Regions from separate parts of the Homo sapiens genome. Here region 1 is linked to region 2. Evidence: fine-mapped expression QTL. A gene starts in region 2. The other region holds a variant in brackets. All regions are shown on one strand. Distances are between the middles of the regions.

Evidence for each region. PIP is the estimated chance that this variant, and not a neighbour inherited with it, causes the effect. A credible set is the group of variants that fine-mapping cannot tell apart.
Region 1: its variant is the best candidate, but not a certain one, in a credible set for the expression of LRRC43 in nasal epithelium (TOPMed, PIP 0.54).

Annotation. Positions count from the first base shown.
Region 1 is chr12:122,316,606-122,321,605 of GRCh38, forward strand. CLIP1 (CAP-Gly domain containing linker protein 1) reads right to left here. Exons shown (of 26, transcript NM_001247997.2): 18 at 2,627-2,743; 19 at 144-250. Among named protein-coding and RNA genes, the nearest start is that of VPS33A, 53 kb to the left of the region's middle. The variant C/G (reference allele first, on the strand shown) is at 2,339.
Region 2 is chr12:122,180,181-122,185,704 of GRCh38, forward strand. LRRC43 (leucine rich repeat containing 43) reads left to right here and starts at 2,943. Exons shown (of 12, transcript NM_001098519.2): 1 at 2,943-3,114; 2 at 4,339-4,599. The coding sequence starts at 2,965. RefSeq lists a silencer at 2,971-3,070 and an enhancer at 4,664-4,733.

The sequences.
Region 1 (5,000 bases), 140 kb after region 2:
GATGTTGCTTCTGGGGTATGCAATAGAGTCTGCATACGTTTACTTTATGTACTTCTCAAATAATTTTTAAGTAATTAGCATTGTGTTCACATTTTCAATTTAAAATAAATTCCATATTTTTTTCTCAAAGGATAGAAACTTACATTTCTTTCCTAAATTCTTCCATTTTTTGATTCTCTACAGTCAGGAGTTCTTTTGATTTGTTCAGCTCTTCCACATTTTTCAAGTTGTTTTCTTTAAGTGTGTCCAACTTAAAGACCAAGAGAAAAAAACTTGATGAAATTATTTCATTTTCCAGTGACATGAATGAACAAATTATTCATGAAAATGTGTACTGAAAAGACAGATGAAATTAGTCACTCGCAAAAAAAAAAAGTCTCCTGGGTGAAGAGATTACAGATGACAAGTCTATTACAAACTGCAAACCTCCTCCTTACATTTAGTCTGATATATATATATCCTGTACACCTGGCCAAAAGGTCAAACTAGATTGCTACACAGAAGTAAAGTTTTCTTTTATCTTGTGTACAATTATCAGCACTTATCACTGAACTTGCTATTCAAATATGATTAAAAACAAGAAATAAAATGCAAAGCAATGACATCAGCAAGGATTATTCTTTGTAATGAAAAGAAACCCTTTTCTTTCCCCAAAGATTAGTGATTTAGGATACGATATTTTTCAATGTCAGTACCAGATTTACATAGTCCTCATTACAAAAATTATTTATTTGAATCAAAATTATTTGTAGACTGGAAAAAAATTTAGTTACCCATCTGAACTTGAACCTGAAGAGGAAAAAGCCATGTCGTGGGACTGAAGGGCACTTACACCCACCTGGCTCCATCATTGGCCCACGGGGATGCAGCCAGCTGAGGGCCTGGCTCTTGGTGGAAAGCCAGAGCTGTCACTGGGATGAGTGGGGATATGACTGATCATAGGCTGTGGCAGGTGGTTGGAGCTCTAGGTGCAGAGCCACCACCAAGGATGGTAGCTCATGTGGGCCTCCATTCCTCAAGGTGGCTCCTGGGGCCATGCTGGCTTTCTGGGCCTTGAGAAGTTGTCTCCTACAGCCAGAAAAGGGAGCTATCTCCTTTTGCCATGCCACATGCCACCAGTCAGGAGTCCTAGAAAATGTCTTGCTAGTTTTACAACTACCATCTTCCTTTTAACACCTAACATTCCAGATTAACAGAACAAGAAAAATAAAATATCACAATGGGTCCGAAAATATGGTTCATCCAACCCTGAATTCTGGCTATAACAAAGACACCAAGGGATCTGTTATAGAACGACACAGTTCCCCCTGGTTCCACTGCTGCAGGTTAGACACATTCCCTAAAATCCTCTCATTTACTTCAGCTTCTAATTTTGATTAACAGCTATGATTTTTTAATGCTTTTATACTTTTAGTTTAAGTCATCTTCTCTTAGGATTGTCAGTTCTATAAATGTACTTCCTTCTATGTGAAGTGTTGTTATTTATCATATCATTACCTCCAAATGTTCATCTCCTTTGAAAAGTTGATCCTTGACCTCCACAATGAGGAGGCCTGGTCTTTACAGTGGCTCCTCAGTTTGGCCACTGCCTCCCCCTTGCTTTCCTTCCTTAATGTCTTACCTGCCTATTACTTTTAAAAGTATCTGGGCTGGGCGTGGTGGCTCATGCCTGTAATCCCAGCCCTTTGGGAGGCCAAGGTGGGAGGATCACGAGGTCAGGAGTTCCAGAACAGCCTGGCCAACATGGCAAAACTCCGTCCCTACTTAAAATACAAAAATTAGCCAGGCGTGGTAGTGGGCACCTGTAATCCCAGCTACTCGGGAGGCTGAGGCAGGAGAATCACTTGAACCCAGGAGGTGGAGGTTGCAGTGAGCCGAGATCATGCCATTGCACAACAGCCTGGGCAACAAGAGCAAGACTCCATCTCAAAACAACAACAACAAAACAAAACAAAAAAAGCAACAACAACAAAAAAGCATCTGAAGTTCCACAGGACTTCACATAACCATTTTGGTGCCTCAGTCGGCTTAGGATTTAGATAACAGCTTTCCAAATGAAGAAAGGGTTGGTATGAGCTAGGAGGGTGGGAGCAGGGAAATCCAAAGAGGAGGAGAAATGCCACAGAAGGAGAAATGCTACTTGTGGACAGAATCAAAATATCTTGACGCCACATATTTGTCCCTGCTCCAAAAGTGACTCATTCAAGATGACACAAAAGGAAATCAGTACTGAATTGGGCCAAGAAAAGGCCTACATCAGACTCAGGGCTGAGGAAGAAAACTTAGTGGCTCAAAGTTGGGAAAGAGAAGAGAAAAAACAATGTGTGTGATGTAAGAT[C/G]AAGGATACAAAAGCTAGAGCAGGCCATCAGTACCTCCTCTCACTAGTGCCATCAGTAAACAGTCACCTTAGCCACACTATTAGGATTTTTTCCTCAATTTGTAAAGTTGATCCTAATAAGTAATGAAGTGATACACTTTATTTAAGATTATCGTGGCTCTGGCATGCATTTCAAACCTGTGTAAAGTCACACACTTCAAAAACATAAGCAATCCTGAGTCAGTGACCAAACATTCTACCAAGTTGGTAAGCTGTTCTTTGTATAAAAAGCTATTTAAATCTGATTACTTCATTCTGTAGTTTTGCATTTGTTTGCTTGGTGTCCTCCAAGGAGGCCAGAGTCTCAGTCTTCTCTTTGGTCATCTGTTCCATTATCTGCATGGCATCTTCCGCTGTTTGAGCAGCCTAAATACAAGGAAACACTGTGAGAAATGAGGACAGCCCTCGCCAACACCGTTAGGTGAGGATCGGGCTGTGCTGTTCAGGCAGCACTCAGTGTCTGTGTGGGTAAGGGAGGCACACAGAGAGGGTGAATCAGTCACAATCCAGTGCTGAAACAGACGGACCAGGACAGGAAAGGTCTTTACTCTGAAGTAGAATATGCAGACCCTTTCCTGCCATTTTTCAATGTCAATTGTTATGCAATTTGCATGTAAACATACATCTTCCAGTGAAAGTTCCAAATGACACTGGCAAGCATGCTCCCTTCATTCTGACTTATGTTTGAGAGACCGTTCGGAGGTAACAATGAATAACATCCTTATATAGCTGAATTTCTTGGAATCATATTTATTATTATAAGTTTAAAATACCATCCTTGCTATTTCAAATCTGGGGCTTTCAAAGTCACTCAAATTTAGGCTGAGAATTTTTCAAATAAATATAAAAATTATTTGGGCACTTCTAACATAAGGCTCAAGTGTTTAACGAGAAGCATTTAATGCAAGTTGTGGGTAATGAATAAAAACACGGCTGTGAATAAAAAGATGCATATGGAGACAAATTCTTAGCTGTTAACTATCAAAATTAATTATAAAAAGTTAGATATAGGCCGGGCGCAGTGGCTCACGCCTGTAATCCCAGCACTTTGGGAGGCCGAGGCAGGCGGATCACGAGGTCAAGATATTGAGACCATCCTGGCCAACATAGTGAAACCCCGTCTCTAATAAAAATACAAAAAACTAGCTGGCCGTGGTGGCGGGTGCCTGTAGCTACTTGGGAGGTGGGGCAGGAGAATGGTGTGAACCTGGGAGGCGGAGGTTGCAGTGAGCTGAGATTGCGCCACTGCACTCCAGCCTGGCGACACAGCGAGACTCCGTCTCAAAAAAAAAAAAAAAAGTTAGATGTAAAAATAACCATAAAAATAAATGAAAATATAGCTAGGCATGGTAGCATGTGCCTACAGTCCCAGCTACTCAGGGAGCTGAGACGGGAGGATTGCTTGAGCCCAGGAGGTGGAAAGTAGCCTGGGAAACACAGCAAGATTCCCACCTCTAAAAAAATAAATTAATTAACAGGCCAGGCGCAGTGGCTCATGCCTGTAATCCTAGCACTTTGGGAGGCCGAGGCAGGCAGATCACAAGGTCAGGAGTCAATATGGTGAAACCCAGTCCCTACTAAAAATACAAAGCTTAGCCGGGTGTGGCAGCACGCACCTGTAGTCCCAGCTACTCAAGAGGGTGAGGCAGGAGAATCGCTTGAACCCGGGAGGCAGAGGTTGCAGTGAGCCAAGGTCACACCACTGTACTCCAACCTGGGTGACAGAGCGAGACTCTTTTTTTTTTTTTTAGGCAGTCTCATTCTGTCACCAGGCTGGAGCGCAGTGGTGCAATCTCAGCTCACTGCAACCTCCGCCTCCCTGGTTCAAGTGATTCTCCTGCCTCAGCCTCCTGAGTAGCTGGAACTACAGGCCCACATCACCACACCGGGCTAATTTTTGTATTTTTAGTAGAGACGGGGTTTCACCATGTTGGCCAGGATGGTCTTGATCTTCTGATCTCGTGATCCGCCTGCAACAGCCTCCCAAAGTGCTGGGATTACAGGTGTAAGCCACCGCACCCGGTGAGACTCTGTCTTAAATAAATAAATAAATAAATAAATAAATAAATAAATAAAGTCCTTTAGGCACTTGTTTATAATTTATTGGTCTAATAAAGTTTATGAAAATTCTGCATTTTTCCCTATCCAATTATCAGCCATGAAGATTTCAATGGAATCTTCCAACTCCAAATGGACAGACACAATGAAATAGTTAAAAGCCAAACAGAAGACTATATTTCAATATGTGCCAATTTATTGCTTTTTTTTTTTTTCCCTTGAGACAGAGTTTTTCACTCTTGTTGCCCAGGCTGGAGTGCAATGGCGCAAGCTCGGCTCACTGCAACCTCCATCTCCTGGATTCAAGTGATTCTACTGCCTCAGCCTCCTGAGTAGCTGGGATTATAAGCGCACGCCACCACGCCTGGCGAATTTTTGTATTTTTAGTAGAGACAGGGTTTCACCATGTTGGTTAGGCTGGTCTCGAACTCCTGACCTCAGGTGATCCACCTGCCTCAGCCCCCGTGAGCCACCACACCTGGCTGTTCTTTTTTTTTAGATGGGGTCTCGCTCTGTCAACCAGGCTGGAGTGCAATGGCATGATCTCGGTTTCCTGCAACTTCTG
Region 2 (5,524 bases):
TTTGGTGTGGCAGTTATATTGTGGTGGTTTGGGAAGTGAGGAAAAAGTGAGCATAGGCCAGGGGCGAGTGGCTCACACCTGTAATCCCAGCACTTTGGGAGGCCAAGGCAGGTGGATCACTTGAGGTCAGGAGTTCGAGACCAGCCTGACCAGCATGGAGAAACCCTGTCTCTACTAAAAATACAAAAACTAGCTGGGCATGGTGGCGGGAGCCTGCAATCCCAGCTACTCAGAAGGCTGAGGCAGGAGAATTGCTTGAACCCAGGAGGCGGAGGTTGCAGTGAGCCAAGATTGCGCCACTGCACTCCAGCCTGGGCAACAGAGCAAAACTCCGTCTCAAAAGAAAAGAAAAAAAGAAAAAGTGAGTATAGACCACTGTGTCAAGAAGCTTGGATGAGAAGGAAGAGAAAAGAGACAGTGTTGGCTGCAGGGGGACTTGGGATGAAGGGTGGAAGGGCTTCCTGGCTGGGCCTCTTCTGTGTATCTTGGGCTCTGTGGTCTGCCCAGACCTGACCTCATTCCTGAGCTCTTACTCCTAACCAATGGCTGATTTGACACAGTAGACGCCCATTGGCATCTGGACCTTAACTTGTTCCAAACAGGATGCTTGATTTCCCCTCTCAGTCTTCTCTTCCTTCACTGCACATTGTCCATCTGTTGCTCCATCAAAATTGCAGGAGCCATATCTGTGATTCATCTCCTTGATTTATTTATATCACTATGGACTCATAGATATTTATTTTATTCTTTGAGAGCCAGGCATGGTGGCTCACGCCTGTGATCTCAGCACTTTGGGAGGCTGAGGTGGGTGGATCACTTGAGGTCAGGAATTCGAGACCAGCCTGGGCAACATGGCGAAACCCCATCTGTACTAAAAATACAAAAAAATTAGCCAGGCATGGTGATGCATGCCTGTAGTCCCAGCCACTCAGGAGGCTGAGGTGGGAGGACCGCTTCAGTTCAGGAGGTCCAGGCTTCAGTGACCTGTGATCACGCTACTGCACAGTAGCCTGGATAACAAAGGGAGACCCTGCCTCAAAAAAAAAAAAGGATATTTTCTTCTTTGAAAGGACATATGGTTGGCTGGGCCCGGTGGCTCATGCATGTAATCCCAGCACTTTGAGAGGCTGAGGTGGGCGGATGACGAGGTCAGGAGATCGAGACCATCCTGACTAACACGGTGAAACCCCGTCTCTACTAAAAATACAAAAAATTAGCCGGGCTTGGTGGCGGGCGCCTGTAGTCCCAGCTACTCAGGAGGCTGAGGCAGGAGAATGGCGTGAACCTGGCAGGCGGAGCTTGCAGTGAGCCGAGATTGCACCACTGCACTCCAGCCTGGACGGCAGAGGGAGACTCCGTCTCAAAAAAAAAAAAAGGAAAAGAAAGGACATATGGTCATCTTTTTGCCTTAACTCCCAGTTTTGGATAAATTTTTTTTTTTTTTTGAGACAGTCTCACTCTGTTGCCCAGGCTGGAGTGCAGTGATGTGATCTCGGCTCACTGCAACCTCCGCCTCCTGGGTTCAAGCAATTCTCCTGCCTCAGCCTCCGAAGTAGCTGGGACTATAGGCATGTGTCACCACGCCTGGCTAATTTTTGTATTTTTAGTAGAGACGGGGTTTCACCATGTTGATCAGGCTGGTCTCGAACTCCTGACCTCAGGTGATCCACCCACCTCAGCCTCCCAAAGTGCTGGGTTTACAGGGGTGAGCCATCGCGCCCAGCCTAATTTTTCTAATAACAGTAAAGTTGTCCCGATATCGTATAGTCAAAAAGAATGAGAGATGTTAATGTGTTCCTCCAAAATTCATTTGTCAGAACCTGATGCCCAGTGTGATAGTATTAAAACGTGGGGCCCTTTGGGAAGTGATTAAGTTTGGGGGCTCCTCAGGAATGGGATCAATGTCCTTATAAAAGAAGCTTCATGGCTGGGCGTGGTGGCTCACGCCTGTAATCCCAACACTTTGGGAGGCTGAGGCCAGTGGATTGCCTGAGCCCAGGAGTTTGAGACCAACCTGGGCAACATGGTGAAACTCCATCTCTACTAAAATACAAAAAATTAGGCTGGGTGCGGTGGCTCACGTATGTAATCCCAGCACTTGGGGAGACCGAGGTGGGTGGATCACCTGAGGTCAGGAGTTCGAGACCAGCCTGGCCAACATGGTGAAACCCCGTCTCTACTAAAAATACACATTAGCGGGGCGTTGTGGCAGGCGGTTGTAATCCCAGCTACTCGGGAGGCTGAGGCAGGAGAATCGGTTGAATCTGGGAGGCGGAGGTTGCAGTGAGCCGAGATCGCGCCATTGCACTCCAGCCTGGACAACAAGAGTGAAACTCGGTCTCAAAAAAAAAAAAAAAAAAAAAAAAGCCGGAAGTGGTCATGCGCGCCTGTAATCCCAGCTACTCGGGAGGCTGAGGCAGGAGAATCGCTTGAACCCGGGACACGGAGATTGCGGTGAGCTGAGATCTCGCCACTGGACTCCAGCCTGGGCGACAGAGCGAGACTCTGTCTCAATAAAATAAAATAAATAAAAAATTTAAAAAATGAGGTCTGGGTGATTAAACAGTTATACAGGTGGACAGTGATAAAATCCCTGACTCCAGGGTTAGAGAGACCACCCTGGAACCCACTGGCTGGTTGGAGTCGAGATGTTTGACCTTGGGCCCTCTTCTCCTTTCTCCATCTGTCAGATGGGTATAGGATGACTTTCCGTGGGGAGTGCTTGACAGGAGCTAAGAAACAGGTCAGCTATGGCGCTTACTGCCTGCGGGAGCTGCCGCACTTAGAACCACCAGCTGTTATCCCATTTTTATAGATGAGGGCAGAAGAGAAAACGCAGGTGGTTGGGGCCAGGCTGTCTGATCCGGATGGGGGACTTTTCCCTCGGGGCAGGTGAGAGCGCCTGGAGAGGCCCCTGCCCCCGCGCACGCGTCCTAGCGGTTGCCGGGCAACGCGGCCCGGGCCATGGAGGCGTCGTACGAGTCCGAGTCCGAGTCCGAGTCTGAGGCCGGGCCTGGGACTCAGCGGCCCGGGACCGGGACCGTGAGCGCGGCCGTGCGCGAGCACTTGCGGAAGCTGTGTCTGCGCGAGTTCCCGTGCGGTGCCGGCAGCTGGGTGCGGGCGCCGGGGCCGGAACTCTGGGGGCCTGGACCGGCTGCGGGGAGGCACGGGCCCGGGCGAGCGGAGCGGGCTGGTCCCTGGGGCCTGGGATCTGCGCATTCTGGGGGCCGCCGACATGGGGGCGGGTGGGGCTTGAGGGTGACGGTGGGGCCCGAGTCGCGGGCACTGCGCGGGGAGGAGAGCGGGGCCCGTCCTGAGCACATCAGCTGACCTGGGCTGGGGCCTCTCCCTGACTTGAAGACGTCAACACCCCAGATTTCTAGTGGGCAGGCTCCTTTTGGGGTGAAAAGCTTTTGTTTTGGGCAAAGAGTTCCACAACTTTTCCCAGCCTCCGAGCATTTAATAAGAGCCTGAGGCAGTGTGAGAGGTGGCTCAGCCTGAAGCCTGCGACCTTGAGTCCAGGAGAAGGGGTTACCCCCCATCCTGCCTCCCTGTCTCCAGAGTCCTAGACCCTTCCCTCCCGTGGCTTCAACCACGAGGGGCGCCCAGGTGTGGCCCAGGAAGGCTTACTGCCCAGGCTGGAGCATAGTGACGCGATGTCGACTTACTGCAACCTCCGCCTCCCAAGTAGCAGGGATTACAGGCACCTGCCACCATGCCCGGCTAATTATTGTATTTTTAGTAGAGACAGGATTTCACCATGTTGCCCAGGCTGGTCTCAAACTCCTGACCTCAAGTGATCCACCTGCCTTTTTAAAAGGAATGGCACCTTTTAATTATTTTGTATCTCACCTCATCTGTAGTTATATCCATGGCTAATAATCCATCAAAATTATTGATTATTCACTGTCTAGATTTTTTTTTTTTTTTTTGAGACGGAGTCTCGCTCTGTCACCCAGCCTGGAGTGCAGTGGCGTGATCTCGGCTCACTGCAACCTCCGCCTCCCGGGTTCAAACGATTCTCCTGCCTTAGCCTCCCGAGTAGCTGAGACTACAGTTGCGTGCCACCACGCCCGGCTAATTTTTTGTATTTTTAGTCGAGACGGGGTTTCACCGTGTTAGCCAGGATGGCCTCGATCTCTTGACCTCATGATCCGCCTGCCTCAGCCTCCCAAAGTGCTGGGATTACAGGCATGAGCCACCGCACCTGGCCTACTCTCTAGATTTCTAAACTCTATCCCTAATCGTCCAGTTTTATGATCTGTTCTGTTTTGAGAGTTTGGTGTCCTTAAGGGGGCTGTGTCACACCTACAGAAAATCCCTCCTCTGCCACTGCAGAATAAGTCGCGCTTTCTTCCTCAAACTTGGCGAACTTGGAGGGAGCTTGTCCCCAGAGAGGAGGATGTGGTGAGCCCCGGAGAGGAGACGGTGGAGGCCCTGCTGGGCCTGGTCCGCAGCCGCCACTCCCCCTGGGCTCTGCTGAACAACTCGAATGCAGAAGACAGTTTCCTGAGAGAATTGGCCATCCGGAACCCGCTGACGATCACAGACACCTTCTTCTACTCCTACTTCCGGTCCCTGCGGGTAATAGACAAGAAGGTCAGTGCTGGGCACGTGGTAGGTGATGTTAGGGTGGCCGCTCCCCTAAGGGAGGTTGTGGGGAGGGCACCCTTCCCCACAGCGCGTCAGGGATCCTGCTTTCAGGGCTGAAACGAAGGCCAGCCTGCCCTCCATCTGCTTCATCTCCCTGGCTTGTGTGCCAGGCAGGGCCGGCTACTCGGTCAGCCTTGCGTTTCTTCTTCCTTTACCCCTGGAAGCCATCATGGCACAGCTTCCACCCCTGAGTTCTGCAGTGGACCCTCCTGGGTCCTAGTAAAGGTTTTTTGAAGGGTCTGTGTTAGTTTTACTTCGTTTAAACCGTGGGGGTCAGGGTAGGGGAAGGTTGGTGTAGTTCTATTTTAATTTGTTACCAAAAAGCATTCTTTGTTTACATCAGTAGCAGAGCCCAGTCTCGGCATGGTGGCTCTCTGGTGCTTGTAATCTCAGCACTTTGGGAGGCTGAGGCAGGAGGATCGTGTGAGTCTAGGTGTTAGAGGCCCAGCCTGGGCAACATAGTGGGATCCCACCTCTGTAACATCTTTAAATTTAGCCAGGTATGGTGGTGCACGCCTGTAGCCCCAGCTACTCAGAGGCTTAGGCAGGAGAATCACTTGAGGTGGGGAGGTAGAGGCTGCAGTGATCATGATCGCACCGCTGCACTCCAGCCTGGGTGACAGAATGAGACCCTGTCTCAATCAATTAAGCAAGCAAGCAAACAAGAGTGAGACTCTGTCTCAATAAATAAATAAAGCCAGCAAGCCAGCCCAAAAATTGCCTGGAAACTTGGTCTCAGCCTTCCCAACCCTTGGCTTTCTTTTTCCAGAGCCACTGGGAAGTGACACGGCACTAGGGGACAAATAGGGTGACTGACTGGTAGCAGTTTGCCAGGGACTTTCAGTTTCAGTGCAGAAGGTTTCGTGTCCTG